Linked DNA regions of Homo sapiens. The protein of the gene in region 4 purifies or fractionates together with the protein of the main gene of each other region. This does not show direct contact. Each region holds a gene or a part of one and is shown on either strand. Other genes may lie near its edges. The genes, in order: ATF1, NUP35, RNF138 and TRPV5.

Evidence for each region.
Region 1: the proteins of TRPV5 (region 4) and ATF1 purify together in Homo sapiens (affinity purification with mass spectrometry; 3 studies listed by BioGRID and IntAct, with this or other methods). This does not show direct contact.
Region 2: the proteins of TRPV5 (region 4) and NUP35 purify together in Homo sapiens (affinity purification with mass spectrometry; 3 studies listed by BioGRID and IntAct, with this or other methods). This does not show direct contact.
Region 3: the proteins of TRPV5 (region 4) and RNF138 purify together in Homo sapiens (affinity purification with mass spectrometry; 3 studies listed by BioGRID and IntAct, with this or other methods). This does not show direct contact.

The regions. Positions count from the first base shown.
Region 1 is NC_000012.12:50,794,532-50,802,402, reverse strand, and holds part of ATF1 (cyclic AMP-dependent transcription factor ATF-1), read right to left. Parts: intron 6,506-7,871; exon of another isoform or gene 6,495-6,505; coding exon 6,394-6,494; intron 1-6,393.
Region 2 is NC_000002.12:183,147,803-183,155,673, reverse strand, and holds part of NUP35 (nucleoporin NUP35), read right to left. Parts: intron 4,167-7,871; coding exon 4,025-4,166; intron 1-4,024. UniProt on the Homo sapiens protein: Functions as a component of the nuclear pore complex (NPC).
Region 3 is NC_000018.10:32,086,706-32,095,071, reverse strand, and holds the start of RNF138 (E3 ubiquitin-protein ligase RNF138), read right to left. Parts: upstream 3,199-8,366; 5' UTR 2,837-3,198; intron 2,385-2,836; exon of another isoform or gene 2,373-2,384; 5' UTR 2,296-2,372; coding exon 2,186-2,295; intron 569-2,185; exon of another isoform or gene 466-568; intron 1-465. UniProt on the Homo sapiens protein: E3 ubiquitin-protein ligase involved in DNA damage response by promoting DNA resection and homologous recombination.
Region 4 is NC_000007.14:142,909,158-142,917,028, reverse strand, and holds part of TRPV5 (transient receptor potential cation channel subfamily V member 5), read left to right. Parts: intron 1-1,460; coding exon 1,461-1,547; intron 1,548-1,645; coding exon 1,646-1,722; intron 1,723-1,982; coding exon 1,983-2,148; intron 2,149-2,322; coding exon 2,323-2,389; intron 2,390-4,278; coding exon 4,279-4,547; intron 4,548-7,432; coding exon 7,433-7,539; intron 7,540-7,871. UniProt on the Homo sapiens protein: Constitutively active calcium selective cation channel thought to be involved in Ca(2+) reabsorption in kidney and intestine. Required for normal Ca(2+) reabsorption in the kidney distal convoluted tubules.

The DNA.
Region 1 (7,871 bases), on a different chromosome or scaffold from region 4:
CAGGCGCGTGCCACCAGGCCTGGCTAATTTTTGTATTTTTAGAAGAGATGGGGTTTCACCATGTTGGCCGGGCAGGTCTCAAACTCCTGACCTCAGGTGATCGCCTGCCTCGGCCTCCCAAAGTGTTGGGATTACAGGCATGAGCCACTGTGCCTGGCCTCCAGTATATGTGTTCTGTTTCTTTTGTTAAATTCATATCTAAGTATAATTTAAATTTATAAATTTAATTTTAAACCTTTTATACTTTGTTATTGTAAATAGAATTGTTTTTAAGTTTCATTTTTGGATTAGTCATTGCTAGTATATGGAAATACAGTTGATTTTTGTTATATTGATCTTATATCCTACAACCTTGCTGGAACTTGTTGATTAGTTCTATTTTAATAATTCTTTAGGATTTTGTATATATAAGATACTGTCATGTACAAAGTGTTTTACTTAGTCCTTTCCAATCAGGATGCCTTTTATTTAATTTATTGACTAATTCCCTGAGTGCAATGTTTAGAAGTGGTGAGAGGGGATATCCACATTATTTTCTTATTAGGATGTTAGTTGTGGGTTTTTCGTAGACCCTTTTTATTAGGTTGAGGAAGCAGCCTTCTATGTATTTGTTGAGCAGTTTTATCATGAAATGGTAACTGGATTTTTGTCAAATGCTTTTTCTGTGTCTTGCGATGATCATATGTTTTTTGTTTTGATTCTATTAATATGATGTATTACATTAATTGATTTTCAATTATTAAACCAATTTTGCATTTCAGGGATAAATCCTGTTTGGTCATGGCATATACTACCTTTTACATGTTGTTGGATTTGGTTTGCTAATATGTTGTCGAGGATTTTTTGTGTCTATATTCATGAAGGATATTGGTCTAGTTTTACAATTGCCTTTTAATTGGTGAGTGTAGGCCATCTTCAGTATTGGCTGATCTTCCACTTTATTATTTGCTTTCTGTTTATTCTGTTTTTAAAATTCTTCTGTGTTCCTGCACCTGCATTATTTTGGATTATTTGAAGACTTTTCAAAATTTAATTTTTAAGCAACTGTATATTTGACTAAATCTTTTTGTGTAGTTTTTTTTTAGTAGTTGCTCTAGGGGTATATAGATACCTAGCTTTTTATAGTCTACATAGAATCACTATTTTACCACTTCAGGTGGAATGTAGAAACCTTACCACCATATTAGAACTGTTTATATTTCCCTCTTTATGTTGTAGATGTCTTATATATTACCTCTGCACACATTAAAAACCCCATCAGAATTTCATAATTTGTTTTCAGCCATCAAATTGATTGATGGATTGATTGAAACAGAGTCTCGCTCTGTCGCCCAGGCTGGAGTGCAGTGGCATGATCTCGGCTCACTGCAACCTCCCAGGTTCAAGTGATTCTCCTGCCTCAGCCTCCCGAGTAGCTGGGATTACAGGCGCCTGCCACCATGCCCAGCTAAGTTTTTATCTTTGTAATAGAGACGGGGTTTTGCTATGTTGGTCAGGCTGGTCTCAAACTCCTGACCTCAGGTGATCTACCTGCCTCAGCCTCCCAAAGTGCTGGGATTACAGGCATGAGCCACCGCGCCCAGCCATCAAATATATTTTAAAGCAGCAGTTCCCAACCCTTTTGGCACCAGGGACCAGTTTCGTGGAAGACAATTTTTCCATGGATAGGGAAGTCAGGGGATGGTTTCAGGATGAAACTGTTCCATCTCAGATCATCAGATATTAGATTCTCATGAAGAGCATGCAACCTAGATCCCTCGCATGGTCACAACACGGTTCACATTCCTATGAGAATCTAATATGCCACTGATTTGACAGGAGGCAGAGCTTGGGTGCTAAGGCTCGCTCACCCGCTGCTCACCTCCTGCTGTGCAGCCTGGTTCCTAATAGGCCACAGACAGGTACCAATCCACGGCCTGGGGTTTGGGGACCCCTATTTTAAAGAATTCAATAGGAGAGGAACTGTCCATTATATTTGCCCAGATATTTCTGTTGCTGTTTCTTCATTCCTTAACTTTCTTTCGTCTTAAGAATTTTCTTAGCAGTTGTTTTACAGCAGGTCTGCTGGCAATTATTTCCCTTAGTTTCCCTTGATGAGAATATTTATTTGACCTCCAAGTCTGAAGGATGTTTTCAGTAGACATAGAATTTTGGGTGCCAAGACCCAGGAGATAATTCTTTTTTCTTTTAGCACTTTAAAAATGCTATTCCATTATCTTCTCACCTCCATAGTTTCTGATGAGCACTCTGTAGTCATTCACAATGTTCTCTTGTAAGTAATGTGCCATTATTCTCTGGCTACTCACAAGATTTCTTTAACTTTAGCTTTCAGCAGTTTGATTATGGTAAGTCTGGGCAATGATTTATTTGTGTTTATCCTGTTTAGAGTTTGCTGAGGTTTTTGAACCTGTAGGTTTACGTCTTTCACCAAATTTGGTAATTTTTCAGCCATTATTTTTTCAAGTATTTTTTCTGCGCTATACTTTTTTCCTCTCTTTCTGAGACTCTAATGACATAAATCTTAGATCTTTAATTATTGTCGCACAGGTCGCTGAGAATTAGATAATTTTCCAATCTCTTTTCTATGTTCAGATTGGATAATATCCATTGAATAATCTTCAAAGTTGATCGTTTTTTCTCTCATTTCCATTCTACTATTGAACCCATCCAATGAGGTTTTATCTCTGTTACTGTGTTTCTTAGCTCTGAAATCTCTATTTTATTCTCTTTATATGCTCTATTTTTGGCCGAGAGTTTATACCTTTCATTTCAAGAAAATTCACTTACTTGTTGGAACAGTTTAATAATAGCTTCTTTAAAGTCCTTGTCATATAATTCCAACATTTGTATCATCTAGGAGTTGGCTTCTGTCAACAGTCTTTTCCCGTGCAAGTTGAGATTTTTCCTTGTTCTTTGATACCAAGTAATTTTGGACTCTTTGAATATTATGCTATCAGACTCTGGGTCTTGTTTAATAAAAAATGTTTTATATTCTTGTTGCATGTGCATGTGTGTATTTGGGACAGGGACTCGTTCTGTCACTCAGGTTGGAGTGCATGGCACAATCATGGCTCACTGAAGCATCAACCTCCTGGGCTCAAGTGATCCTCTGCCCTCAGCCTCCTGAGTAACTGGGACTACAGGTACACACCACCATACCTAGCTAATTTTTGTATTTTTTGTAGAGACAGGATCTCCTTATGTTACACAGATTGGTCTTAAATTCCTGGACTCAAGTAGTCCTCCCACCTCAGCCTCCCAAAGTGCTGGGATTACAGGCATGAGCCACAGACCTAGACTATATTCTTGTTTTAGAAGGTATCAATCTGGTTGTGTCCAGGCCACAAGTTCTGATCAGCCTTCTGTGGGTTGTGGTTCCAATGTCAGTTCAGTTTCCAAAGTCTTTGCAATGCTATTCATATCTATTACACATGTGCACCAGGTAGTGGCCAGTCTAGAATTTGGGCAATGGTGATCTGTCCTATACATAGTTAAGTTCTAAAAGTCTACATATGCTAGGGAAGCCCATTTTTATTCATTTTTGGTAGAAATGTATGAGGTGCTGGATTTAATCAAATACTTTTTTTCCCAGCATTTATTGAGTTGACTGTATTGTTTCTGCCAATTCTCACTTACGTGGTTTATGTCCTTGCACGTTTGATGATTTTTGAGTGAATTCGTATTTGATTTATACTAATCTGTGGCAATCCAGAAAGCTTAACTTTGAGAAGTTTCTTTTCAGATGTTATAGCCTTCCTGAGAGACCCCTACTTAATAAAGAAATCTCAGGTTCAGGCTGGGCATGGTGACTCACGCCTGTAATCCCAGCACTTTGGGAGGCCAAGGTGGGCAGATCACGAGGTCAGGAGATTGAGACCATCATGGCTAACACAGTGAAACCCCGTCTCTACTAAAAAATACAAAAAATTAGCCAGGTGTGGTGGCGGGCGCCTGTAGTCCCAGCTACTCGGAAGACTGAGGCAGGAGAATGGCATGAACCCAGGAGGCGGAGCTTGCAGTGAGCCGAGATTACTCCACTGCACTCCAGCCTGGATGACAGAGCGAGACTCCATCTCAAAAAAAAAACAACAACCATGAAACTACCCAAATTAATCATTATTACTATTGTTCTAAAAAGCCAATGCTAACTGAAATGAATTGTCTTTGTTCACCATACTTTCTCACATTTATATTCCTTTCATTTTCTTCTTCCTGAAGTATACACTTAAGTAGTTTCTTTTTTCTTTTTTTTTAGAGATGGAGTCTCACTCTGTCACCCAGGCTGGAGTGCAGTGGCACGATCTCAGCTCACTGCAGCCTCCGCCCCCTGGGTTCAAGCTGGGACTACACGCATGTGCCACCATGCCTACCTAATTTTTTTATTTTTAGTAGAGATAGGGTTTCTCCATGTTGGCCAGGCTCGTTTCGAACTCCTGACCTCAAGTGATCCACCCGCCTCGGCCTCCCAAAGTGCTGGGATTACAGGCGTGAGCCACTGTACCCAGCCTCCTTAAGTAGTTTCTTAAATCAGTTTGAAAATGATTATTATTTCACCGTCATTTTTGAAAGACTGTTCAGTAGGCACAGAATTCCAGGTCAAAAGTTACTTTCTCTTTGAATTTAAATATTGGAGCCTGAGTACAGTGGCTCATGCCTGTAATAGCAACACTTTGGGAGGCTGAGGTGGGAGGATCACTTGAGCCCAAGAGTTTGACACCAGCCTGGTCAACATAGTGGGACTCTATCTCTACCAAAAATTAAAAAAAATTAGGTGGGCATCATGGCATATGCCTATAGTCCCAGGTACTCAGGAGGCTGAGGAGCTGACCCCAGGAGGTTGAGGCTGCAGTGAGCTGTGATCACACCACTGCACTCCAGCCCAGGCAACAGGGTGAGACCTCCGTCTCAAAAAAACATGTAATAATTTAAAGATAAAAATAAGGATTTTAGTTCATTGTCTTATACTGTACTTCAAAAATCTGTTGTCAGCTTACTGGTCCTTCCTTTCTAGGTAATTGGTCTTTTCACTTGGAAGCTTTTAGCTTTTAAGATCTCAGGTTTATCCTTGGTGTTCTCCAGTTTTACTTTACAACATACACCTAGATGTAGGTTTCTATTAATTTATCTTGTTTGGGACCTTGCTTTCTTATGCTGAGAAATTCATATCCTGGAAATTGCAGTCATTATCATTTTCTCTCCTGGAGAGACTAGAAGCTGGAAGTGCCCTTCCCTCTTCTCTCCTTTTATCTATGTATGTTGTGTACTGGACCTTCTCATTCTGTGTTCTATCTTAACTTTGTCTTTCTGTGTTCCATTCTAGGTAATCTACTCAGAGCTGTATCCTCAGGTTCTCTCATTTTGTCTTCAGTTACGGGTATTAACCCCTTATCAGATAAGTGGTTTGCAAATAATTTTTTCCCAGTCCGTAAGTTGCCTTTTCATTTTGTTGCTTTGTTTCCTTTGCTACACAGACACGTTTTTTAGTTTGACGTAGTCCCATTTATTTATTTTTTTGTAGCCTAAGCTTTTGGTGTGATATCCAAAAAATCATTGCCAAGGTCAATGTCGAAGAGCTTATCGCCTATGTTCTCTTCTAGGATTTTTATGGTTTCAGGTCTTAACATTTAGGTCTCTTATCCATTTGGTGTTGATTTGTGTAATGGTGTAAGATAAAGATTAAATTTACATTTTTTTTTTTTTTTGAGACAGAGTCTTGCTCTGTTGCCCAGGCTGCAGTGCAGTGGCACAATCTCGGCTCACTGCAACCTCCGCCTCCCAGGTTCAAGTGATTCTCCTGCCTCAGCCTCCCAAGTAGCTGGGATTACAGGTGTGCACTACCACACCCGGCTAATTTTTCTATTTTTATTAGAGACGGGGTTTCACCATGTTGGCCAGGCTGGTCTCAAACTCCTAACCTCAGGTGATCTGCCCGCCTCAGCCTCCCAAAGTGCTGGGATTACAGGCATAAGCCACTGCATCCGGCCAAAGGTCCAATTTCATTTTTTCTTGGAGACAGGATCTTGCTCTATCACCCAGGCTGGAGCACAGTGACACAATCACAGATCATTGTAACTTCAAACTCCTGGGCTCAAGCCATCTTCCCGCCTTAGCCTCTAAGTAGATGGGACTACAGGCGTGCGCCACTATGTCCAGCTAAGGTTTGTATTTTTTGAAGAGACAGGGTCTTGCCATGTTGCCCAGGCTGGTCTTGAACTCCTGGGCTCAAGCAATCCTACCTCGGCCTCCGAAAGGGTTGGGATTATAGGCGAGGGCCAACCAATTTCATTCTTAACACTGACGCGTGCTAACTTCTTTAGTGTACTTTGCACAGCACCTCTTGAACTCATTTGGTACTATCATAACATGCAGGGCTTCATACAAGAGAGTACTCACCTGTAAGATGGGCGCCGTGCTAGGATCCCGTGGGCTTTCTGTGAGGAGCCTATGCTGTCGGATGAGTCCTGGGACTCCTCACTTTCTGATAAAGATGATACCTAAAAAAGAACTGGCATTAACATGATGAACAATGCAGGTGGGAAAAGAAACAACTGAATTTTTACTTTTAGAAAAAAATGATCTGTCTCCTGCCACTCCAATTCATTTGTACATTAAATCTAAAGTCTAAAAGAAAGGAACAAAAGGAAAAGGAAAAATGAGAAAGTTTATTCCAGGAGCCCAACCTATTAAAGGAATATCAAATATAGCAGGCCCAGAGCTGAGAATAAAGTCTGTCCCCCAAATGAAGCAGTACTATTTTACCAGAGTTAAAAAGACCAGGCTCTGATGTCATTCTCCACCCTATTTCTACACTGATGCACATTACTTAAAAGTGTTGTTTTATTACTAATCTACCTGACATGCTAAGTTTGAAAAACCTGTTATATATTCAACTGCTGACATTGAGACGAATATTAAATATACAAGCCTGTAGGTCTGGGAAGAGGTCTGGGCTAGATACATAAATTTTGGAGGTCTAGCTTTTTAGAGTCCTTAAAGCCATGAGACTGGATGAGCTCATAGGGGTAAATAGAAGAGGACTGAGGACTAACCTCAGGAACACTAAGAGACTGGATGAAGAGGAGGAACCAGCAAATGAGACTAAGGAGTCACCAGTAAAGAAGAGAACCAAATGATTGAGCTGTCCATGGAAAACTAGTGAAGACAGCATACTGAGGAGAAAAGAATGATCAACCATGTCCAATGCTGTTTACAAGCTGAGATAAAATAAAGACTGAGAACAGACCATTCGATTTAGCAAGGTGGAGGTCACTGGCAATGGCAGGTATAAATATATGCCATTTTAAAATCTGTATGATTCAATTTTATCTCATTTCACAAGTTAATACATGCAACACTTGGCATGCATACAATGTTAATTTTTATAAACTACATCAATATAATATGCAAGTTATAGCAATATTTTACAATTGAGAAAACAAGTTGTTTTCAATTTTTTTTTAAATATTTTTAATTTTTTTATTTTTGAGACAGGGTCTCACTCTGTCACCCAGGCTGAAGTGCAGTGGTGCAATGACAGCTCACTGTAGCGTCGCCTTCCTGGGCTCAAGCAATCTTCCAGCCTGAGCCTCCTGAGTAGCTAGGATTACAGGTGCACACCACCATGCCCAGCTAATTCATTTTTTTTTATTCTGACAGGGTCTCATTATGTTACCCTGGCTGGTGTCAAACTCCTGGGCTCAAGCAGGCCTCCCAAAGTGCTGGGATTACAGGTATGGGTCACCATGTCTGGCCTCAATTTTTTAAGCGTATTAAAACTTTCCAACATTTGTCCAAAGTTAGATTGTGATATCCGACTTCATCTGAATTTTTTTTTTTTTGAGATGGAGTATCACTGTGTCGCCCAGGCTGGA
Region 2 (7,871 bases), on a different chromosome or scaffold from region 4:
CTTGAGGCCAGGAATTGGAGGCTGCAGTGAGCTATGATCATGCCACTGCACTCCAGCCTAGATAACAGAGAGATTGTCTCAAAAAAAAAAAAAAGCCATTTTATGAGAGACTATAAAAATGTAAATGTAAAAGAAGAAGAAGAAAAAAAACACACCAGCCCAATTGCTATGGATATAGGACTGAGTATGGACTTTCTAGAGAACAACGGAATGCAATGACCCGCTTTTTACCCAAATAGAAATCAATAACACATAAAATCTCTCTGGAAACATACACAAAAAACAGATGGCAATCACTGCCTTAAAGAGGAGGAAAACTAGCTTGGGACAAAAGCAAAAGGGAAAACTTCATTGTACATTCTTACATACCTTTTGAATTTTTAATTTTAAATAAATTGAATACATAAAATCCACTAAACATTTACTATGCACCTTTCTTCCTTCAAGGAGCTCATGTGTTATTTTTATGTTTTTTAATCCCAAAAAATATATAATAGATACATTCCAGTATCAGCATGTGATACAGTTCAGCTGTGTCTCCAACCAAATCTCAACTTGAATGGTATCTCCCAGAATTCCCATGTGTTGTGAGAGGGACCTGAGAGAGGTAATTGAATCATGGTGGCTGGTCTTTCCTATGCTATTCTCATGATAGTGAGTAAGTCTCACAAGATCTGACGCGTTTATCAGGGGCTTCCGCTTTTGCTTCCTCATTTTCTCTTGATGTCACTATGTAAGTACCTTTTGCCTCCCGCCATGATTCTGAGGCCTCCCCAGCCATGTGGAACTGTAAGTCCAATTAAACCTCTTTTTCTTCCCTGTCTCAGGTATGTCTTTATCAGCAGCATGAAAATGGACTAATACAGTAATTGGTATCAGTAGAGTGGGGCATTGCTGAAAAGATACCCAAAAATGTGGAAGTGACATTGGAACTGGCTAATAGGCAGAGGTTGGAACAGTTTGGAAAGCTCAGAAGAAAATGTGGGAAGTTTGGAACCTCCCAGAGACTTGTTGAATGGCTTTGACAAAAATGCTGATAGTGATATGAACAATAAGTTCCAAGCTGAGGTGGTCTCAGATGGAGATGAGGAACTTGTTGGCGACTGGAGCAAAGGTGACTCTTGTTATGTTTTAGCAAAGAGACTGGTGGCATTTTGCCCCACCCTAGAGATTTGTGGAACTTTGAACTTGAAAGAGATGATTTAAGGTATCTGGTGGAAGAAATTTCTAAGCAGCAAAGCATTCAAAAGGTGACTTGAGTGCTATTAAAAGCCTTCCATTTTAAAGGGGAAACACAGCATAAAAGTTCAGAAAATTTGCAGCCTGACAACGCAGTAGAAAAGGAAAACTCATTTTCTGAGGAGAAATTCAAGCTAGCTGCAGAAATTTGCATAGCTAGAAAGGAGCCTAATGTTAATGCCCAAGAGCATGGGGAAAATGTCTCTAGGGCATGTCAGAGCCCTTCAAGACAGCCAATCCCATCATAGGCCTGGAGGCCCAGGAGGAAAAAGCGGTTTTGTGGTCCAGGCCCAGGGTCCCTGTGCTGTGTGCAGCCTAGGGACTTGGTGCCCTGTATCCCAGCCCCTGCAGCCGTGGCTGAAAGGGGACAATGTAGAGCCTGGGCTGTGGCTTCAGAGAGTGGAAGCCCCAAGCCTTGGCAGCTTCCACATGGTATTGAGCCTGTGGGTGCACAGAAGTCAAGAATTGAGGTTTGGGAACCTTCACCTAGATTTCAGAAGATGTATGGAAATACCTGGATGCCCAGGCAAAATTGTGCTGCAGGGGTGGGGCCCTCATGGAGAACCTCCGCTAGGGCAGTGCGGAAGGGAACTGTGGGGTCAAAGCTCCCACACAGGGTCCCTACTAGGGCACTGCCTAGTGGGGCTGTGAGAAGAGGGCCACCATCCTCCAGTCCCCAGAATGGTAGATCCACTGACAGCTTGCACTCTGTGCCTGGAAAACCCATACACGCAATGCCAGCACGGGAAAACAGCCAGGAGGGAGGCTGTACCCTGCAAAGCCACAGGGGTGGAGCTGCCCAAGACCATGGGAACCCACCTCTTGCATCAGCGTGACCTGGATGTGAGACCAGGAAGTCAAAGGAGATCATTTTGGAGCTTTAAAATTTGACTGCCCCTCTGGATTTTGAACTTGCATGGGGCCTATAACCCCTCTGTTTTGGCCAATTTCTCCCATTTGGAATGGCTGTATTTACCCAATTCCTATAACCCCACTGTATCCAGGAAATAACTATCTTGCTTTTGATTTTACAGGCTCATAGGTGGAAGGGACTTGCCTTAACTCAGATGAGACTTGGGACTGTGGACTTTTGGGTTAATGCTGAAATAAGACTTTCAGGGGTGTGTTGGGAAACCATGATTGGTTTTGAAACGTGAGGACATGAGATTTAGAGGGGCCAAGGATGAAATGAAATGGTTTGGCTGTGTCTCCACCCACATCTCAACTCAAATTATATCTCCCGGAATTCCCATGTGTTGTGGGAGGAACCCAGGGAGAGGTAATTGATTCATGGGGGCCAGTCTTTCCTGTGCTATTCTCATGATAATGAATAAGTCTCACGAGATCTGATGGGTTTATCAGGGGCTTCCGCTTTTGCTTCTTCCTCATTTTCTCTTGACACCGTCATGTAAGAAGTGCCTTTCACCTCCCACCATGATTCTGAGGCCTGTCCAGCCATGGAACCCTAAGTCCAATTAAACCTCTTTTTCTTTCCAGTCTCGGATATGTCTTTATCAGTATGAATAGGGACTAATACAGTATGGCAAATCATACTTTCAGAAACAAACTTTATATTTTTGTAGAGTGTAAATATCAGCTTGAATATCAAAAGACCCAAGTTTTTGCTGGAGCTTTGCTAATAATAACTAGATGTGAACGGCTGAATAAATCACTTAATCTGCCTACACCTCAGTTTCCTCACCTGTAAAATAAAACATTATACAATATGATCTCTAAGGAGTTTTACTGTGATAGATATATATACATACAAAATGGAATACTCAGCAGTAAAAAGGAATTAATTAATGGCATTTGCAGCAACCTGAATGGGACTGCAAATTATTCTAAGTAAAGTAACTCACTTATTCTAAGTGAAGTAACTTAGGAATGGAAAACCAAACATCATATGTTCTCACTCATAAGTGGGAGCTAAGCTATGATGATGCAAAAGCATAAGAATGATGCAATGGACTTTGGGGACTCGGGGGAAAGGGTGGGAAAGGGGTGACGGATAAAGACTACAAATTGGGTTCAGTGCCTACTGCTCAGGAGATGGGTGCCCCAAAGTCTCACGAATCATGTAAAGAACTTACTCATGTAACCAAATACCACCTGTTCCCCAAAAACCTATGGAAATAAAAAAGCATTTTTTTTAAAAAAAGGCATTTTAAAGTTTTTTTTGGACCTAAAAATCTATTCAAAAATGTAACAAGGACTGTCATACTGTTTCTATTAATATTCAATACTTTGTGGACCAGAAAGTATCAACCCTGTGACATTGTGTGTGTGTGTGTGTGTGTGTGTGTGTGTGTGTGTGTGTGTGTTTGTAAATGTTCATTCTGTTAATTCAAAACTGGTGAATTCCACTAGATGTAGAGAACCAGTCACTAGAAAAAGGGGAAGGAGTTCCCTAAGTCTAAAGGGACAACTGTGTTCCATCTAGTAAATATGCTTGAGAGAAAATAATTTGGGAAGAAATAAACAGACAAATGATTTAAAAAACTACAAACAAATATCAAACTCTAGTTAATGACATGCATGCTCAAGTGTCAGGGTAATATGTATTGATGTCTACAACTTATTATGAAATGTACCAACAAAAAGAATGAATTGATAGATGGATAAATGACAAAGCAAATGTAGCAAACTGTTAACCATAGAACCTAGGTGGTAGTAATATGGGTGTTTGCTATGCACTTCTTTCCATTTTACTGTATGTTTGATTATATTCATTATAAAATGTTAGGGTGGGGTTTTTAAAAGGCAAATGGTCTGCAAACCTTACCCAAATACAGTCACCCAAGAGTCATCGAGGTGATCTTCTGAAGTCAAAGAATCTCCTTGAGTATAAAAAGGATCCAACTGGGCAGGAGATAATGTCGTCTTTCGTGGCTGACCGATACTTGCTGGACTAAACATACTTTGCCCTATATTAGTATATTTAGCAAGTTAGTTGCCAGTGTAAACACCTCGATTGATTCTAAATCAAAAATCTTAGTTTTAAATGATAAAGTCTAATAAAGTTGGCAATTACATAAACAGTTCAAAACATACAACTGTGGTCAAATAGCAATTTCATGCTACCATACAATTAGAGGAAGTAATAATTGGGCATAGTTTATAATTCTGCAAATGTTTTATTATGTATGATAAATTATCTAAATGTTTTATTAAGCATGTCTGGTTAAGCTGACACCAGAAGGATATCCCAGGCAACCTCAAAGACTTCTGTTGGTTTCATCTTCCAAACCTACCACTTTCATCACAGCACCTCTGCCTTAAGAACATGTAAAAATGTATTACCCACAGAACAAAATCCGAATGCCTTGGCCTCAGCTATACAGTTGCAACCTTACTTTTCCAGTATGCACTAAACAATATCTACCTTACCCCTTAAAATGTGAATGCAATTTTCTTTTATTCAGGTCATTTCTTTCTAAAATGTCTTATCCTTTTATTTCTTATTCTTCAGTAACAGCCACCAATTGAGTACTTCTGTGTGTCCAACATGCCATGCTAAACACTTTATAAAGTTCATTTTATATCAGAAGCAATGTCCAATTAAGGCTATACATTTGAGAGAAGCAAAGACTATTTCCCTTTCATCTTCACAGTAGCAATAATGATTTACTCATTCAAAACATATTTTATCAGCACTTAAATATGCACCAAGCATCAACCTAGGTATTGAAGGTATAGCAGTAAACACATTAGACAAATAAAAACAAAAAATCCATCCCTATTGGAGCCTACATTCTAGCGAAAGAGAGACAAATAAGTAAATACTTAATGTGCTACAAAACTAAAAATCCTACAGAGAAAAAAAAATAAAGCAGAGAAGGGAGACAGGGCCAATTTGTGTGGGTGGGTTAAATGAAAAAGGATTTCACTGAGGTGCATTAAAGCAAAAACCTGAAGGACAAGGGAAGCAAAACAATATTTGAAGAAGTGAACATTTTGTGGAGAAAATAATAAAACAAAGGCCATGAGGAAAGACATGATTGGTCTTAGATGAACGCAAGAAGGCCACTGTTTGCACAGTGAGGGGGATGTGAGATGAGAACAAGGAGATGCGAGCAGAGAGGCAGCAATATGCCGGATCATGAAGAAAAACCTTATAAAGCCACTGTAAAAGCTAAAGCTCTAAGCGAGGTAGAAAACCAACAGAAAAATCTGAGCAAGCGTGACATAACAGGACTAAAACTTTGATAGTAAAAGGTAGCATTTTAAGGGCCAGGCCAGTGGCTCACACCTGTCATCCCAACACTTTGGGAGGCCAAGGCGAGCGGATCATGACGTCAGGAGTTTGTGACTGGCTTGGCCAACATGGTGAAACCCCATCTCTACTAAAAACACAAAAATTAGCCAGGTGTGGTGGTGCATGCCTGTAATCCCAGCTCCTCTCAAGGCTGAGGCAGGAGAATCGCTTGAACCCGGGAGGCGGAGGTTGCAGTGAGCTGAGATAGCACCACTGCATTACACCCTGGGTGACAGAGAGACTCTGTCTCAAAAAAATAAAAAAATTAAAAAAAAGGTAGCATTTTATTAAGTGATTATTACACTTTACGAGTGTAATTTTATTTAATTCTAACAATCCTACAAAAGGTCCAATTAGTCCATTTAACAAATTAGGAAACAGGATAATATTAAATAACATCCAGAAGGTTAGTTGGAATTCCAATCCAGGCAATCGGAATCCAAAGCATGAGCTCTGAGGCAGTAATCTAGTTAACATGTTTATTTCCTGTGGCAGTACTACAAGTGTGGTCTGGAGATTCTTGGCTCCCCCAGGACTCTCTCATGAGATCAGCCAACTCAAAATTATTTTCACAAAAACATGAAGTTTCATTTGCCTTTTTCTCAGTCTCTTATTAGTGTACAGTGGAGTTTTCCAGAGGCAACTTCATGTGATTCAACAGACTCAGGTTGAAAAGAGAAGCAGATTCATGAGAATTCACAGGTATTTTATTAAGCCAGACACTAAAAAGATTTTTAAAACAAAAACAATGTCACTCTTCCTGCAAATCTTTTTTTCTTTAGAAAATAGTTACTGTTCACTTCAAAAAAGATTATGTTTATATGAAATAGCTTTATTTTTAAATGAGTTAATACTTAAATTTTAAATTTTGTTTTAATTTTGAATGCAGTAAATATTGATAGCTATAATCTATATAAACAAAAGCTCTTTAATTTTTAAGAGTATAAACAAGGTAAAAACTACAAAACTAAGACATTTGAGAACCACTGTTCTACAGGTCAATGCGCATGAGTCATGCTCCATTTTTATTGATTTTCTAGAGGCTACTTAACATATTCTAACTATTGTATGTATCTCCTGACTTGCCATTTATCCTTAATTCCCAAATGAGTTGAAAACCATCCTAACTCATTCCAAAGTGTTTATAGTCACATGGATTTCTCCAAGTATGTTCTTAAGAAACAAAAAAGATTATCTATAGAAGGTGGGGGGAAAAGCTACTGTGATAAAAAGCTTGGCTTTGCACTGTGGCTCGTGACTGTAATCCCAGCGCTTTGGGAGGCCAAGTTAGGAGTTCAGGACCAGCCTGGGCAACATGGCAAAACCTTATCTCTACTAAAAATACAAAAAATTAGCTGGGCGTAGTGGTGTGTGCCTGTGGTCCCAGCTATTTGAGAGGCTGAGATGGAAGGATCACTGGAGCCTGGGAGGTGGAGGTTACAGTGAGCCAAGATCATGCCACTGCACTCCAACCTAAATGACAGAGTTTAAGACTCCATCTCGAAATATATCTATAGATATATTTGATAAAAATAACCTGTTAAAGAAGTGGGCAAAGAACATGAATAGACATTTTTCAAAAGACATACAAATGGCTAAGAGGTATATGAAAAAATGCTCAACATCACAAATCATCAGAGAAATGCAATTCAAAACTACATCATCACCTTACCCTAGTCAGAATGGCTATTGTTAAACAAAAAAACAAACAGATGCTGGCGAGGATGCAGAGAAAAGAGAACTCATACACTGTTGGTGAGAACGTAAATTAGTACAACCTCTATAGAAAGCCATATGGAGATTTCTCAAAGAACTAAAAATAGAACTACCATTCAATCCAACAATTTCTCTTACTGGGTATCTAACCAAACGAAAAGAAATAATATAACAAAAAGATAGCTGGACTCATAAGTTTATCACAGCACTATTCACAATAGCAAAGATATGGAATCAACTAAGGGTTCAACAATGGGTGAATGAATAAAGAAAATGTGGTGTATATATACAACGGAATATTATTCAGCCATTTAAAGGAAAGGAATCAATTTTGCAGCAACATGGATGGAACTGGAAGTCAGTATCTTCAGTGAAACAACCCAGGCACAGAAAGACAAACATCACATATGCTCACTCATAAGCGAGTGCTTAAAAAAGTATTCACAAAAATCAGTAGCATTTCTATACACCAATAACATTCAAGCTGAGAACCAAATCAAAAATGTAATCCCATTTACAATAGCCACATATCAAAAAAAAAAAAATTAAAATACCTAGGAATACATCTAACCCAGGAGGTGAAAAATCTCTACAAGGAGAACTACAAAGCACTGATGAAAGAAATCGCAGATGACACAAATGGAAAAACATTCCACGC
Region 3 (8,366 bases), on a different chromosome or scaffold from region 4:
TCTGCCTATTCTTTTAATTCATTGTTCAGGCAGAACTGTCTACGTACAATAAGTTGATTTGAGAAAGGTCCTGAATTAAAAACAATCATCTCCAACATTTTCCACAGTCTTGAGGTCAAATCAAATTATAAACCTTGATTTAAAATGTCCCACAAGGGAAGCGGACTAGAGCAATCTACACGGAATTTTGGGGAGTGCTAAAAACTACAATGAGGCCCATTAGGTCAATGACCCAAAGGATAATTAGAATGATTCTATCCAAAAAAGACCTGCTTTATATATATATATATAGTTAGCAGCTATTACAACTTCCTCTCACCTTGCTCTCCTCCCTCCCTTTTATCTACCCAATGCCAACACAGCACTTAAATTTTTTTTAAATATTGGAAAGGGACCAAGTTATGCTAGATTAAAGGTGGAAGATCTATATTGTGCCCTAGACACCTCCAAACGTTTTTTTTTTCATGTCAGATGGGTAATGTGCTGACCCTGTAACAAGGTTTGAGGATGGCATATCTCACACATGCCTGTGAACACTCAATCATCACACTATGAACCGCAAAAGGATCCCTCAAAACATTTCCCTAAGAATCTGCATTTGTTGCACAAAATAACAAGATGTCATTCATCTCCCTTAAAGAGCAAAAGCGTAACTGGCATAATTTCTATCATGAAAATCCACACACTCTTGGCTCACACAACCAGCACAAAATAGAAATAAAGTAGACAGTGCAGTTAAGATTGGGGAAAAAATGAGAAGAGTTGGTATCAAGAAAACAGCCACAGTAAGGGCATTTGCAATTAAGAACCAAAAATTCAATCCATCCTTTACAAAATTATAGAACCTCACCTCAAAAAAAAAAGAAAAAAAAGTCGAAGGAGAATGAAATACATTTAGAAGGTTGGTCAATTCTTTTCAGTTGTTTGCAAACACACGTAACTTTCAAGCCTGAGTGTGTTTTTTAAAAATAAAGATTTCCGGGCGGGGCGCGGTGGCTCACGCCTTTAATCCCAGCACTTTGGGAGGCCGAGGCGGGAGGATCACGAGGTCAGGAGATCGAGACCATCCTTGCTAACACGGTGAAACCCCGTCTCTACTAAAAAAAAATACAATAAATAAATAAATAAAGATTTCCAGGCCCCACCTGCCCGAACATTCTTTTGTTAAGTTTGAAATGGAGCCTGGGAATTGGTATGTTTACTTAAAAAGTTCCCCGGGGACTCTGATCATCAGTCAGGTCTGTCAGAAGGGCTATACACCTTCTCAACAAGGGCTCTTTCCAACCCTTACTCACACCCTAGCTGTCCATAAAATTTTATCAAAGTTCTTGTAAATATGCCTGCCAATCAAACGCATGCGTTATCTCACCCAACCCCTTTGTGTTCTCCCCCACCCTGGGTAGCATCTCAATTTCGGCTCATTCCTCATAACAGAAGTCTTCCTTTCTCCTCTCCACCCTTGTATTAATCAAGTAATAAGTAAGCAGAAAGGTAAAACAAAGGGGAACGCTCATTTCAATGCCCGAAAATCCTGTCAGTTTTAAGAGACCAGAGAAGAAAACTCATTCTAGATCCCTCTAACACATAGTGGACTGGAAACGAAACAAAACGCTCTCGAGGGTGTTCTGTGAAGCAGGGTTGAGGGGAAGTTACAGAAGAGCTCTTGGACCGAGGGGACGGACCAAGGTTCTGAAAGAGGAAACTTGAAAGCAGGGCAGGTCGCGGGGCGAGCGGGCCCGCGCGAGCACCGCCGGCCGCTTTTGACACTCGACACCCCAGCCTTCACCCGGGTTGCTAAGAAACAAAAAGGCTCCAAGATCCCTGCAATTCCTCCCGGGCCTGGCGGAGACGACAGGGGCCTCCGGGGCCTGAAGACGCCGCAGGGAACGGCCTGGCCACTGCCCCGGGGGCGCGAAAGCCAGGGAGAGCGGGAGAGCGGGAGAGCGGGAGAGCGGGAGAGCGGGAGCTTGGGCTGAGGGGGCTGGACGCGGGGAGCGGGCCCCGAGGCTGAGGAAAAGGCCGCCCCGGGACTCTGAGGGGCGGGGAACGGGACCTCGCGGGGCAGCGACGCTCGGGCAGGCCGCGGCGGGCTCGGTTCCCGCCAGGCGGCAGCCCGGGGTCCCGGGCCGGAGGCCGGGCCTAAGCGACAACCCGGCTCCGCGAGGGGGAGGGGGCGTCTACTCACACGTGCTGACAGGCCGTGGTCCGCACGGGCGTTTTGAGCACCTCCTGACAGACGGGGCAGTAGAAATCATCTTCGGTGTAGGACGTGGCCGCAGAGAGGTCCTCGGCCATGGCGGGGGATGGGGAAACAAGGCGATGGCGACAGCGGCAGCGGCCGAGGTGACGGTGGCGGCCCGGGGCCCGACTCCCTACATGAACCCGGAGGGGGGAGGGGGATCGCATCAGGATACAGCGCGCGCCAGGAAGGGGGCGGGGCCCTGGGTAGGGCGGGGCCGAACGCAGAGACGCTACTGCCGCACGCGCCGGGCAAGAGGCGACCCCTCCCACGGCTCCTCCCACAGGGGGCTGGATGGGGGACGGTGCTTGGCGGGAGGCTGGGCTCGCAGCATGCCGTGGGCCCGCCCCGCTCGCCCCTCACCCCGCCCCAGGACGCGGCCTCACGCTCTAGGCCACGCCCTCACCGGGCTCCAGGCGCGGGCTCGCGCCCCGCCCTCAGCCCCCGTCTTCGCCCAAGGCCTCCCTTTTCACTGCTTTTCCGCCTCTACTCACCCCGACCCCGAGCCCCGAGTGCCCAGCCCGTGTCCGCGGCTTCCTCCCCGCCCCGCTTCCCGGCACCCCGGCCCCTCCACGCTTCCGCCGGGGAGACTCTCACCTAGGAGCCCCGAAGCGGCGTTGTGGACGGAGCTGCTTTTCCTTCACGTGTTCGTAGAGACCCGGCCCAGCGCTTTCCTCGAGCTTCCTGTCCGGCCGCCGCTATCTTCGCAGCCGAGGCCCCGGGGCAAATGGAGGGCGGCGTGCGCTGTGCTTATCGGCCCCTAACGGGGCCGGAGCCGAGGCTCATGGTGCAGGGAGATTCGCCCGCCGCCGCCAGCAGCTCTGTCTTGGCATTGCGCTGCCTACAGCCTACCCGGCCGTCACCGAACGCGGGAGCGCCGGGGATCTGGGCGGAGGAGCCAGGAGAGGCGGGGAGGCACGGGGTGTGAAGTGCGGCCTGTATAGCAACCGGCGCACGGCGCCTTCCGCGGGTTGTGACGTAAGCAGCTGGGCGCCCGCGGTGACACCTGCGCCTCCCCGCCCCGCCTCGCTAGGCCCGGGACCCCAGTTACCTCTCCTGTCAAATACATTGGGCCTTTCAGGAAGTTTTCGTCAATGTTCAAGATTTAGTCTTTACTATTTGCCCTACCAGAATGTTTTGATCTTGTCAAGATGTGTTATAAACAAATATTTGTTACGGGATTTTAATCCTTTGGGGGCAGGATTAAAGTTTCCTTGAGAGGATGTCCACTTTCTCCTTTAACAGCATGACCGATGCTTAAATACGGTCGCAGATGCAGTCTTCTACTACACCTTTGGGTTGATTTTTGATTTTTTCTTTTTTTTTTTAGCTTTGAAGAGAAATGCCGTAGAAGCATGGACGTGGCTTTTCACCAAGGTTATTCACTAATTTAAGTGTTTTTTTTAATTTTATTTTATTTTATTTTATTTTTTGAGACAGGTACTCACTCTGTCTCCCAGGCCGGAGTGCAATTATCTGTACAATTGATAATCTATAAGATGGTCCAACCTGCGTAACAGAGTGAGATTCCGTCTCAAAAAAAAAAAAAAAAAAGAAAGAAAAAAGGCCGGGCGCGGTGGCTCACACCTGTAATCCCAGCCCTTTGGTAAGCGAAGGCGGTTGGATCACTTGAGGTCAGGAGTTCAAGACCAGCCTGGCCAACGTGATGAAATCCCATCTCTACTAAAAATACAAAAATTAACCGGACATGGTGGTGGGAGCCTGTAATCCCAGGTACTCGGGAGGCTGAGGCACGAGAATCGCTTGTACCCGGGAGGCAGAGGTTGCAGTGAGCCGCGATCGCGCCGCTGCACTCCAGCCCTGGCGACAGAGTGAGACTCTCAAAAAAAAAGAAGAACAAAAAAAGGATAAATCGATAAGATGGGATCCACAATGACGTGAAAGAAGCTAAGGAAAATCTGGAACATTATACAGCATCTACAATTAGCTTCAGAGAAAAGAAAGGTTTTATTACCATCCTTTGTTAAAACCCTCCCCCATGGTCTAAATGAATAAACAGAAGCCATTTAAGGGACTATTTAAATCAATTCTGCCATTTATTGTCTATGTTGACATTGGCATTGTTAGGTGTTATGCAGATGTCATGAACTTTGCTCTCAACCTGTTTACATTATTACATATCTATCAGAATGAGAGAGAAAAAATGGTATTTGCCAAAGTATTAAATTTTGCATTAAACGATGGCTATAATGAGGATAGGAAATGGAATGATTAGAAATATATAGAGTTAACAGAAAACTTTATGGAGGAAATGGGTTTTAATGTACATCTCAAAAGCATTGATTCCTAGAATAATAATAATTTGTCCAATGAATAGCTAATTCCCTCTACCAAACTATATTTTGTATTTTTGTTGCTTTTCCTCCTTAGCAGCAAGCGCAGTGGAAGCAAGACAAGAAAGCTAATACTAGCTTCAGATTTCCTGGAAGGAGGAAGAGCACGTGACGAGAGGGGCAGCTAATAGCAGTAGTTCAGGTGCTTTTCACATTCACTTATAAAATGGTTCTTTGAGTTCAAATTTTTAACAGCCCAGAGAAGAAAACTCACTTTTTTTCTTTTTTCTTTTGAGACAGAATCTCACTCTGTCACCCAGGCTGGGGTGCAGTGGAATGATCTCAGCTCACTTCAACCTGCGCCTTCCAGGTTGAAGCAACTCTCCTGCCTCAGCCTCCCAAGTAGCTGAGATTACAGGCATGCACCACCATGCCAAACTAATTTTTGCATTTTTAGTAGAGACAGGGTTTTGCCATGTTGGCCAGGCTAGTCTCGAACTCCTGGCCTCCAGCGATCCGCCCACCTTGGCCTCCCAAAGTGCTGGAATTACAGGCCTGAGCCACTGTGCCTGGCCTACATTTTACTTTTTTGATAATTCCACTCATTTCATTCATTCTGACCATTTAGGAAGTAAGGTGTATTTTCTGTATAATAGTGTTTCCCATTATTCATTGGGAATATCTAACCATAACATTAATTTTGTGACCCTAATTTTATTTGCTTCATTCTTTCTCTGCAACGGCAGCTTTACTTATGTCTAATCCAAACATATTTGTATCACTCCCCCATATATTCTAATAAGTCATTCGGTATACACGTAAGCATATAGCTGGCAATATGTGGAAATCCAGCAAAAACTTGGACATAAGAAAAATATAGATACCCTTGGAAAGTTAAGCTTAAAAAAATAAGTTGCAATTACCAATGACACAATCTTCTTTCTTGGCAACATTTCTGGTGAAAAGCTACTTGATATTTTTATAAGAATGTCATAGATTTACTCAAAATACATTCAGCTGCGTAAATAAAATGTCCTCAGCCTTTGGTCATTAGAAGGGAAAACCCTAGATGTAGACCGATTTGGTAAACTGTGCTGCAATAATTTAAACAGTTCCTTTAAGTTTGGGTTAAACCAGTCAGTCCCTCTCAGTGGGCTTCCCTCAGAATGGCATTTGGGAGAAGGGAAGGGAGGATGATGGGTAGCTGACATGAACTCAAGGCACTATAGGGGAATCTGGCTCCTGAAATCTGCAAGTTCTCTTTTGCATTTTTGCCGGATTTTCTTTAGCCAGACTAATTTTCTCTGCTCCTTGAGATGTAATGTGTCCTGGGTGTTCTCTTGCTGAAACTTGCTGATGAAGATTGCTCGGACCTGTCTCTCAGCTGGGCCAAGGCCCTGAGATATGTCCTAGCTTCACCAACACTGTAAAACCTTCTGATTCCTGCCACGATCACCTTCCAATTCCTTAACCCTCAACATGGCAGGCTCCTTAGCAGGCTCTCTGGCTCTCAACACAACTACTGTCTATGACATCCTTTGTGGTTCTCCCTCTGGTTCTGAACAGCCTGTAAGGCCATGTGCTTCCAGGGCACACACTCCAACCCATCTAAACCACCTTTCCCCCCCAGAATGAAGCCCCTACTTTGTTTCTTCTCCTACAGTCTCTTGGATTAGAAGGAATGGACTTTTCCCCTTGCCACTTCTTGCTGATTGGGTGCTCTAAAACTCTCCAGTCAAGACCAGGCGTGGTGGATCATGCTCCTAATCCCAGCACTCTGGGAGGCCGAGGCAGGCAGATCACTTGAGGTCAGGAGTTCGTGACCAGCCTGGACAACATGGCGAAACCTGTCTCTACTAAAATACAAAAATTAACCGGGCATGGTATGCATGCCTATAGTCCCAGCTACTCCAGAGGCTGAGGCAGAAGAGTGGCTTGAACCCAGGAGGCAGAAGTTGCAGTGAGCTGAGATGGCACCACTGCTCTCCAGCCTGGGTGACAGAGCGGGACTCTGTCTCAAAAAATAAAAAATCAAAATAAGTAAATAAAACTCTCCAGTCAAGTTCGATGGATCTTGATATGCAAAAGAGAAAAATAAAATAATTTAGAATACTGATTTCTTGACAAGGCCTGGCTTTATCTTACTACAAACCTTCAAAATCCTGTTTTGCTGGTAAAAGTGATTGCCTTTGAAGAAGTGAACTGGGAAGCTGGAGGATGGAACAGGAGAGAGGCTCATGTTTCACTCTCTACCCTTTGGTATCTTTGTAAATTGCTACCATGTGCAGTGTTGACACTCAGCTGGTTTGTACCAGTACCATTTTCCTAGTCTTTTTCAGCCTTGTCCATCCTGACTGGTGAGTAGTCTGTCCTGAATGACCAGTGCCAATTTGGTTCCAGTTGCTAAATATTTTTATTTTAGCAAATATTAGCTAAATATTACTCTTGACTATGTACATACACAACTGTTCCATGAAAGGGCTATATATGCAAAGTGACTCTCAAATGCAGAAGAAGCCAAAAATCCAAAGAAGAGGCAAACAAATCCAGTTTGCTGGTAGCAGGTGATTTACTGGGGAACTTGTGGATGGAAGTGTGGTCTTGGGCAGCAGCAAGACAGGTGGATCTTCGTATTGTTATCCTGCAGACCATAAGGAAAGGGTATACATAATGTGCAGGAAAATTAAAGTTCACCCCTGAGGGAAAGACAAGAATACTATGTGCATTACAGCCTATAATTTGCTTAAGGGCAGGATTTATGATTAAGACCATGCTCTTTTTACACAAGGAATCATAAAGAAGAACTCTTAGGGGCATTCCTGGAACTGGGGTTAATCAGAAGTCAACCTAGCATGTTAACATCCATGATGGAGTTCTTTAACCTCCACAATAACCAATTGTGTAGGGAAAACTCTAACCATATTTTACCTTTACTCTCACGCACCACAACAATCAACACAGAAGAAGACTTCTGTGAACAAATATGTGGGGGGTTTTCCCCATGCACCAAGCAGCAGACAGCAAATGGGTGTCCTCTAATTCAGTTCCTACCTACCCAGAGACAGTGTCAGATCCCACAGGTTGGGGGCCCAGTTCCCAAGACTGGCTTCCATACCCCCAGACACCACTTACAAGTCCGGGCCTCCAGAACTTCCGACCAACCAGCTTCAAGTTGCGGTTCCCATAGCCCACTCTTTGGGTTTCATTAATTTGCTGGAGCAGTGCACAGAACTCAGAGAAACATGATTACTGGTGTATTATAAAGGATATTGCTCCAGCAAATTAATGAAACCGAAAGAGTGGGCTCTGGGAACCGCAACTTGAAGCTGAAGCAGCACACAGAACTCAGAGAAACACGATTACTGGTATATTATAAAGGATATTGCAAAAGATACAGATGACGAGACGCATAGGGTAAGGTATGGGGGAAGAGGTGCAGAGCTTCCAAGCCTTCCCTAGATTGGCCGTTTCCTCTTACCAGTGGTTTAAGCATGAGTGTGTATGTGACTCAGTTATGACCAAAAGGCTGTGAAGGGAATTATTATGAGGGGCATCAGCAAGCACTTTTCTTTGATGATCAAAGACAAGGCCAGGCATGGTGGCTCATTCCTGTAATTCCAGCACTTTGGGAGGCTGAGGTACAAGGATAGCTTGAGGTCAGGAATTTGAGACCAGCCTGGACAACATAGTGGGACCCTGTCTCTACAAAAACATTTTAGAGGCCAGGCATGGTGGCTCATACCTGAAATCCCAACACTTTGGGAGGCCGAGGCAGGCAGATCACCTGAGGTCGGGAGTTCGAGACCAGCCTGACCAACACGGAGAAACCTGCC
Region 4 (7,871 bases):
TGAAATTCTTTGGAAGCAAGTAAAAAAAGAAATTTGCTATTATATGATAAAATAAAATTTACCAGTTTCTCAAGAGATAAATGTCAGAAAAGTTTACAGAGCATACCATTTTTTAAGCCAAAAAAGAAAAAAAAAAGTGTTGACTGATGTCTGGTCACAGGTTGTTAGACCACAGAGTTCTCCAGACACACAGACAGAAGCTTCTCTCCTAGTCTCTCTTGGTTCCCTGTGTTAAAAGCACTGCCTCTCACCGGGCAGGTGAGTGTGCTGCTGCAGTAGAGTCTGGAGAGATGCTTACAGGTTCCAGCTGATTAGCAGAGCAGGGATAATTGCCGTTCCTTATGCTAACTAGGGACCACATTCTCCCTGGCTCAAATCATCAGCTTTCCTGCTGGCCCCAGGGGACTCTCAACTCCTTTCTTGGGTGCACTATTTGGAGATGTGACCTTGGACAACAGAGCTCCCAAAAGTCAAAAGGCTGCTTGCATGTGTTGAAATTATTTGTGCAATATCATGTGGGAATTGTCTACATGGGAACACAGTTTTGTAGAAAGAAGATATACAGTTTTTATTATGTTTTCAAGTGAGCTCATAACTTCAAAAACATAAGGATAATTAATGTAGGATTCTAGCACTACATCTGTGATATTGCATAAGTTTCACCGTGAAGTAACATGCATTGAAGTAGGGTGGTCTTCATTCCACCTTGACCCTTGGACTATACCTTCTACAACTACTGCTCAGGATAGGCAGGGACCCTTCCTCATAGTGTCTCTAGCCCCTTCTCTGCTCTTTTCTGTAATGTCAAATCATCATAAAACCACAGTGAATATATCTATAGTGATTTATGATTTATAAAGTTCATGTAAATATATCATTAATGTAAGCTTCACAATGACTCTGGGAGGTAAGCACTGTAGCCTCCATTTTACAGATGAGAAAACTCAAGTTCAGAGATTTTCCATGAATGGTTCAAGGTCTCACTAGAGGTAGTAGATTCCGGATCCGTGAGGGAACCTGAATTCTGTGATATGTTTACAGTGTATTCTTCCCACTAGAAGCCATGATGAGGTTGGAAAAGGTGGACTTTCCACATAGCTGAAACCATCCCAAGCCACTAATACCTCTTCCTGTTAGCTCACTTGATGCGCTGAAATGTGTTCTCAGCTGCTCAGTATATACATCATAAATTTCTGCTTACAGCATCTATAGAAAAGGCGATTTTGCTAGATGGTAGCTCAAGACATTAGCATATGTGACGTCTATTAAACCTTGGATACATAGACTCCTGTCCTGGTCACAGAGTTACCCACAATGGCAAGTACAATGGGGGTGGGGTGATGCTGGTGGGAAGGGGAGTTTCCTTTATTTTGGATGGGCTTTAGCAGCTTTCGATCATTTGCACAAAAGGATTTGACTCTGCCCATCAGAAAGCACTTCTTCTGAATTTCCCCACATAGGAGGCCTATGAGACACGTGAAGATATCATCAGGCTGGTGGGGGAGCTGGTGAGCATCGTTGGGGCTGTGATCATCCTGCTCCTAGAGGTGAGGGGCAGGCGGGGTCCAGGCTAATCCCATCCCATCTAAGGCCCAGACTGTACCGCAGTCCACATTGTATTTTTGCTTTGCCGTCCTCTCCCCAGATTCCAGACATCTTCAGGGTTGGTGCCTCTCGCTATTTTGGAAAGACGATTCTTGGGGGGCCATTCCATGTCATCATGTGAGTATCCCCTCATTCCAGCCCCCTGCCTTTCCTTACCAGAATCTTTTCCTGTCTCCAGCTCACTCTCTGAGTTCTAGGCCTCAGGTCACTCTCACTCCAAGGACTTCTCTCCAGTGGACTTGTAGGTGTAACTGTATGTGCGTTTTAGGTGTAAAGACTAAGCCTGAGTGTGTGGATACCACCCCGGTCACCACTATGCTGTAGGGACCTAAAATAGTTCCAGCTTGTCTCTCACTCTCTGCTTTCTGCTCCCCCAGCATCACCTATGCCTCCCTGGTGCTGGTGACCATGGTGATGCGGCTCACCAACACCAATGGGGAGGTGGTGCCCATGTCCTTTGCCCTGGTGCTGGGCTGGTGCAGTGTCATGTATTTCACTCGAGGATTCCAGATGCTGGGTCCCTTCACCATCATGATCCAGAAGGTCAGTGCTTTCCCGAAGCTTCCTCCGCCTCAGGCACAAGACCTTCACAGACAGAGGGATGGAGGTAGAATGGAGCTGGTAGAACTATGGGGGCCTCTTGATCTGTTAGCGTTAGCTGCTCAAAAGCAGTGGAAAAGGAATCATCCCACCCTTTCTTCCTTCTGTTTCCTGCAGATGATTTTTGGAGACCTAATGCGTTTCTGCTGGCTGATGGCTGTGGTCATCTTGGGATTTGCCTCCGGTAAGGCACCATACACTCCTCTACTAGATCAGCAGATCTAGTTCTCCAGAAAGTTCACTCTCATTCTTGCTCTCAGTTCTCATTTGCACTTCATTTTGCTTTCTTTTTTTTTGTTTGTTTTTTGTTTTGTTTTTTCCTGTTGGAAGGTAAGTCTAAAAGCACACCCATATTTATAGGACCAGGGGCCACTCAGGTTGGCCTGGAACGTAAAGCCATGTGTTCAGGGCCAATAAGATTTATGTTCACTAACTGCCTTGCAAGATCTTTAAAGGAGAGACAGGAAAAGACTTTTGGTGAGAACAGGGCATTAAACAGGAAAGACTGGCCAGTCATGGATCTCAGAAAACCATGTGGACAAACAGAGATAGTGCCATGCTTAACTCTCCTATGTTTACAATTCAGAAGAGGAAACCTAAAGCACTCAACAACATATAACTTGCTTTTTTTCTATATGTGGTCATTTAAAGCTGAGAAAAATATGAAAGAATTAGAAAAAGGAGGTGCAGAAAAACAGCTTGGACAGTTTGAAGATGACAGAGAAAACAAAAAAGAAGAGTTGTGAAGAGAGACTGGGAGAACAGGAACACACAGGCACCCAGTCAAGGCACAGCCAGTGAAAGTGCCAGGGAGCAAAAGAAAGGAACGGCACAGCAGGAAAACACAGGCAGGTGGAAACAGCCAGAGGGAAGGAGAGGGTGGGTGGAGGAGCAGAAGAAAGTCCTTAGGGAGGGGCAGAAAGAGGAAGGCCCAGGTCTGAAAAGCAAAAGGCCAGTAGCTCAAATTCAGTCCTCAGTGTCTGCAACTGACCATCTATTAGACAAGAAGAGGCACTAGAAGGATCCCCCCATCTCTAAAAAGCAATGACTCAGTGCAGAGGACTCTATTACTGTCCTCAGGGATTTCCCGTTCAATGGGGATTCCCACAAAACAACAGACCAAAACAAAAAACAAACAAAACAAAACAACAACAACAAAACCCCCACCAAAATCTGAAATGTGAAAGAGTAAAACCATGGCGTTCTGCCTGTTTGGAGTTTTCCACCCCAAGCCCTTATGTACCCTTTCCTCCCACTCCCTGGCCATCTACATCTATACATAACACAGATTACAAAATGAGGTGATGGTCCCAGAGTGGCTTTCTGTAGATGTCCTCTATCCAGAACTCTCTAAATGTTCACTTCTTGGCCATTGCACTTGCTTTTCTCTTAAATAAATAAGGAGGCAATGCTTTGTCATAGACCCTGTTTCTGCTCTCAGAATGTGCTTCAGCTCCCTATGCAGTGAGGAGGCTTTCAAGCAGTCCAGCGCTGTCCTGAAGTTCCCTTACGCTCACTGCTATCCAGTAGGCTCCACCCTAAGCAGGAATCCGTTTCCTATGTTGGTTCAGGTTCACTCAGGGAAGGTCAGAGTGATGGAGGGTTATCTAGAGGCCATCAAGATTAAAAAAGGGGCTCTTCTTTTAGCCTGTTCATGTGTTCTGTTCTTTAAAAATTGTTGAGGATTCCATACATTCTTGTAATAACTTGCCTTTTAAGTATTTGGTTTTCTAAAATGCAAAAACCAGTTAGGTGACCTATTATCCATTATCCATACAAACACACACGCTGCACACACAATTTTGTTGTTGTTAAATGACTATTACCATGACCATTACCCAGAGTGGTGAACTTAATCATAGGACATCTTAGGGTTAGACAGTTCCACAGGAAACTACATTTATTAGTATGTAATTATCTGTGCATGTGTGCAAGTGTATTTAGATAGATAGATAGATAGATAGATAGATAGATAGATAGATAGATCAGAGATAGAATAAGTGCTAACCATGTCCATGCTTATTGTGATAACTCCATTATCCCATCTCCATGTCCTCTTCCTGGGCGGAGCAGCGTTCTATATCATTTTCCAGACAGAGGACCCAACCAGTCTGGGGCAATTCTATGACTACCCCATGGCACTGTTCACCACCTTTGAGCTTTTTCTCACTGTTATTGATGCACCTGCCAACTACGACGTGGACTTGCCCTTCATGTTCAGCATTGTCAACTTCGCCTTCACCATCATTGCCACACTGCTCATGCTCAACTTGTTCATCGCCATGATGGGCGACACCCACTGGAGGGTGGCCCAGGAGAGGGATGAGCTCTGGAGGGCCCAGGTGAGTTTATTTGTGTTAGTCTTGCTAAGAAGCAGGGGTTGGAGAGAAAAATCAAAGTGGAAAATGTTATGGTGGATCATTCTTAAAAGAGTCACAGAAAAACCCAGTGAGGCTGTCACCTCAGAAGAGGTTTGTGTAAACCTGAGGTACATGTGGATAAATGGAAGGGACAGAAGGAGGATTAAATGGACGATAGTGGCAAGAGGTGGGGTTGTTGCTCACAGGGGAAAAGTAGACCTAGGATTGATCCTTGAGTCCAGTGGGAACTAGAAGTGACCTTGTTCTGGTATATTCCAGTTTTCAATTTGGATCTTATCTTCTATTTGCTTCTGTAAATCCCTGTTTCTCTATGATCTTTTCTTTATATCACCATAGACTGATAAATATTAGAATTAGAAGTGACCCTCAATGGCCCTCAAGTTGACCTCCTACTTAACATAATAATCATTTATTGGTCAGAATGTCATTCAATATCTTCTCTAATGCTGATTAGTACCTTATTATCTTGCAAATTCAGGTAGAGGTTGGGAGGAAGGGAGTTTTCCCATATTTTTAAAGATTTTGTTATTAGACATTTATGTCGCATTGAGCTAAAACCTATCTTCTTAAAATTTCATTCTTTGGCGCCAGTCTTTCCCTCTCATATATCACAGAACACATTCTTCCATATAAGCACCATTCAAATATTTGAATATAGCCATCATTTTTCCCTTAGACTTTTCATTCATTTAATGATGATCATTTAGACCCTGCTATGTGTTGACAAATGCCTAGGAGCTAGGGACATGAGCATAAACACAACAGACACCATATGTGCCCTCATGGAGCTGACGGTTTAGTTGGAAAGACGGGCATGAAGTGAATGACTTCACAAAAAGCTGTAAAATTACAGCAGCAAAAGTGCTATAGAGAATGTAAGGTGCTAAGAGGAGGATACAACAGAGGAATCGGACTGGGAAGTGAAGACATGCTTTCCTGAGGGAGCAACATTTAAGATGAGAACCCAAAGGTGAGCAAGAACTAGGTAGTTAAAAGGAAGGAGGGAAAAGGATGAAGGTCAAGGTTAGTAGCAATTAGGACTCTTGGCTACAGGGACAGAAAACCAAACTCAAACAGACTTGCAGATTTTTAAACAGGGGGAAGAGGATGTGTTAGTCCTCATAAATGGGAAGTTTAGAGAATTAAACTAACTTTAGAGGTATCTGGCCAGAATGCAGATCCACATCTTATACATTACATCCATTCCTCTGTTCGGCTCTCTTTTGACCTCTCTTCTAAGGCAAGCTCTCCCATCGTGTTTGTGAGATCATTTCTAGAAGCTCCAAACTCCAAAAAGAATGAGGATGTGCAATGCAACACGCAGCTCCGAGGGCCCCACTCACGTTGTATTCTGTGAGGCTCCTGGTGCCAGGCAAAACTGCAGGCTTTAAAAGAACATCTTTCCCCCTGCCAATTCCTTCCATGTTCCATCTCATGGGAACACATTCGGGTCATAGGCACATCGTTGAATCTAAGGAAAGACCAAGGACTAGATAGTGGAGGTGTTGGTGATGGTGGTGGAGGGGAGGTTTGGGGGAAAATAGATTAATTAAGCACAACTGTGTGAAGCCCAGTCCACTCAAACCAATGCACTAAAAGTGATGAGGGAGCAATTCCCTAAATGAAAAATGGGTGCTGTTACCCGAGGAAGGACGGGGCTGCATGATGGCTCAGGAGGAACAATAAACATTTCTTTCAAGGCAAAGAAGAACAGCTATCCAGGGTAAGAGCACAGAATGACTGGAAGTCCTGAGCTAGGAGGGAACTTGGTGCAATTAAGAAACTGAAAGAAGTGTGGAGTAATGAGGAAGATAGGGAGTAGAAAAACATGAGGTGAAGAATTTGCTATTTTGAAGATTGCACTCCTTCAATTAGGAAGCCTTCCTGGTTCTGATCTATTCTGATTGCACCCTTTTGTCCATGCTCTAATAGATCATGGTTTCTTTGAAACTAGAATAGTCCCCAGTATGATTAGGGCAATGCGGTACAAAGCGGGACTATGCCTTTCCTTACTTGGACATAATGCTAAGGGTACCTAAAGCTGAGTCAGGTCTTTTAGCAAATATACAAATGGCCCTTATTAAGCTTGTGATCAGCTAGCACTCCCACACCTTTGTTCTATGACTCACTTATCTAAGCTTCCTAAATGTAAATATAGGACCTTAGATTTGGTTTACTTAAATTTCTTGTTAATGATTTTACACCAGCATTCCAATCTAGCGAGATAATTTTATATTGCTTCTGTTGCCCCACATATTACATATCCCTCCCAGTTTTGTGTCACAGGCATATTTGATAAGCTTGTTTCCCATGTTTCATCTAAGTAATTAATGAGGGCTGAGCAAAGGACAGAACGTGTGGTGGACTTGCTACCAGAAATTTCCCTGCCAACTTGCAGTCATTAATCAACCCTTTTCCTTCCTAAGATGTGGATATTTAATTTGCTGAAAATTCCCTGAACAGTAACAGTATCAATTCATCCCCAAGATCGTAGAGATTCTCTTTAATCATTTTATTTAAATCGAGATAATTGGTCTGTGGCTTTTATATGAAAAAGAAGTTGAGATTAGTTTGGAGTGACTCATTCTCCATGAGTGAATAGTAATGTAAGGGCAACTATTTTATTCAAAACACTCACAAAAAATCCTCTCTCATTTCTTGATGAGTGAAGCTGGTTGCATGGTGCCTGGCACAGGCTGTGGGGTGAATAGGTGGCTGTTCTCACCACTGACCTCTAGTGTCCTATCTCACAGATTGCCTTTGGTTCCCTTTATCAGTGGCCTCAGTGCCTCTTTGAACCTCATGGCTCTTTCAGAGTTCTTCCTGTATCTCCTGCCTCCTTCCAGGTCGTGGCCACCACAGTGATGCTGGAGCGGAAGCTGCCTCGCTGCCTGTGGCCTCGCTCCGGGATCTGTGGGTGCGAATTCGGGCTGGGGGACCGCTGGTTCCTGCGGTGAGTGATGGTGTGCACATGCAAAACTGCAGATGTGTATAAGGCCACGGAAGCAAGGGTGACCGACAGGCGTCCTGGAGCCTACATTAGCCTGTCTAGGGGAGGGGGCTGGAGCTGAAGTGGAGGGGTACGAAGAATGCTGTGTGTACCTCAGGGCAGCCACGTGTAAAAGGTTGTGTGCATGTGTCCATGCTCAGACGTCAGCATGGGTTACCAGACTTGCTGTAACCTTGTTCTGAGCTGACCTTCATCTCCAGTGTACTTTTGGCTTGGATCTAACTTCCTCCTTCATATTCTGCCCTCATCTCCCGGCGTGACTCTCCTCTCTCCTC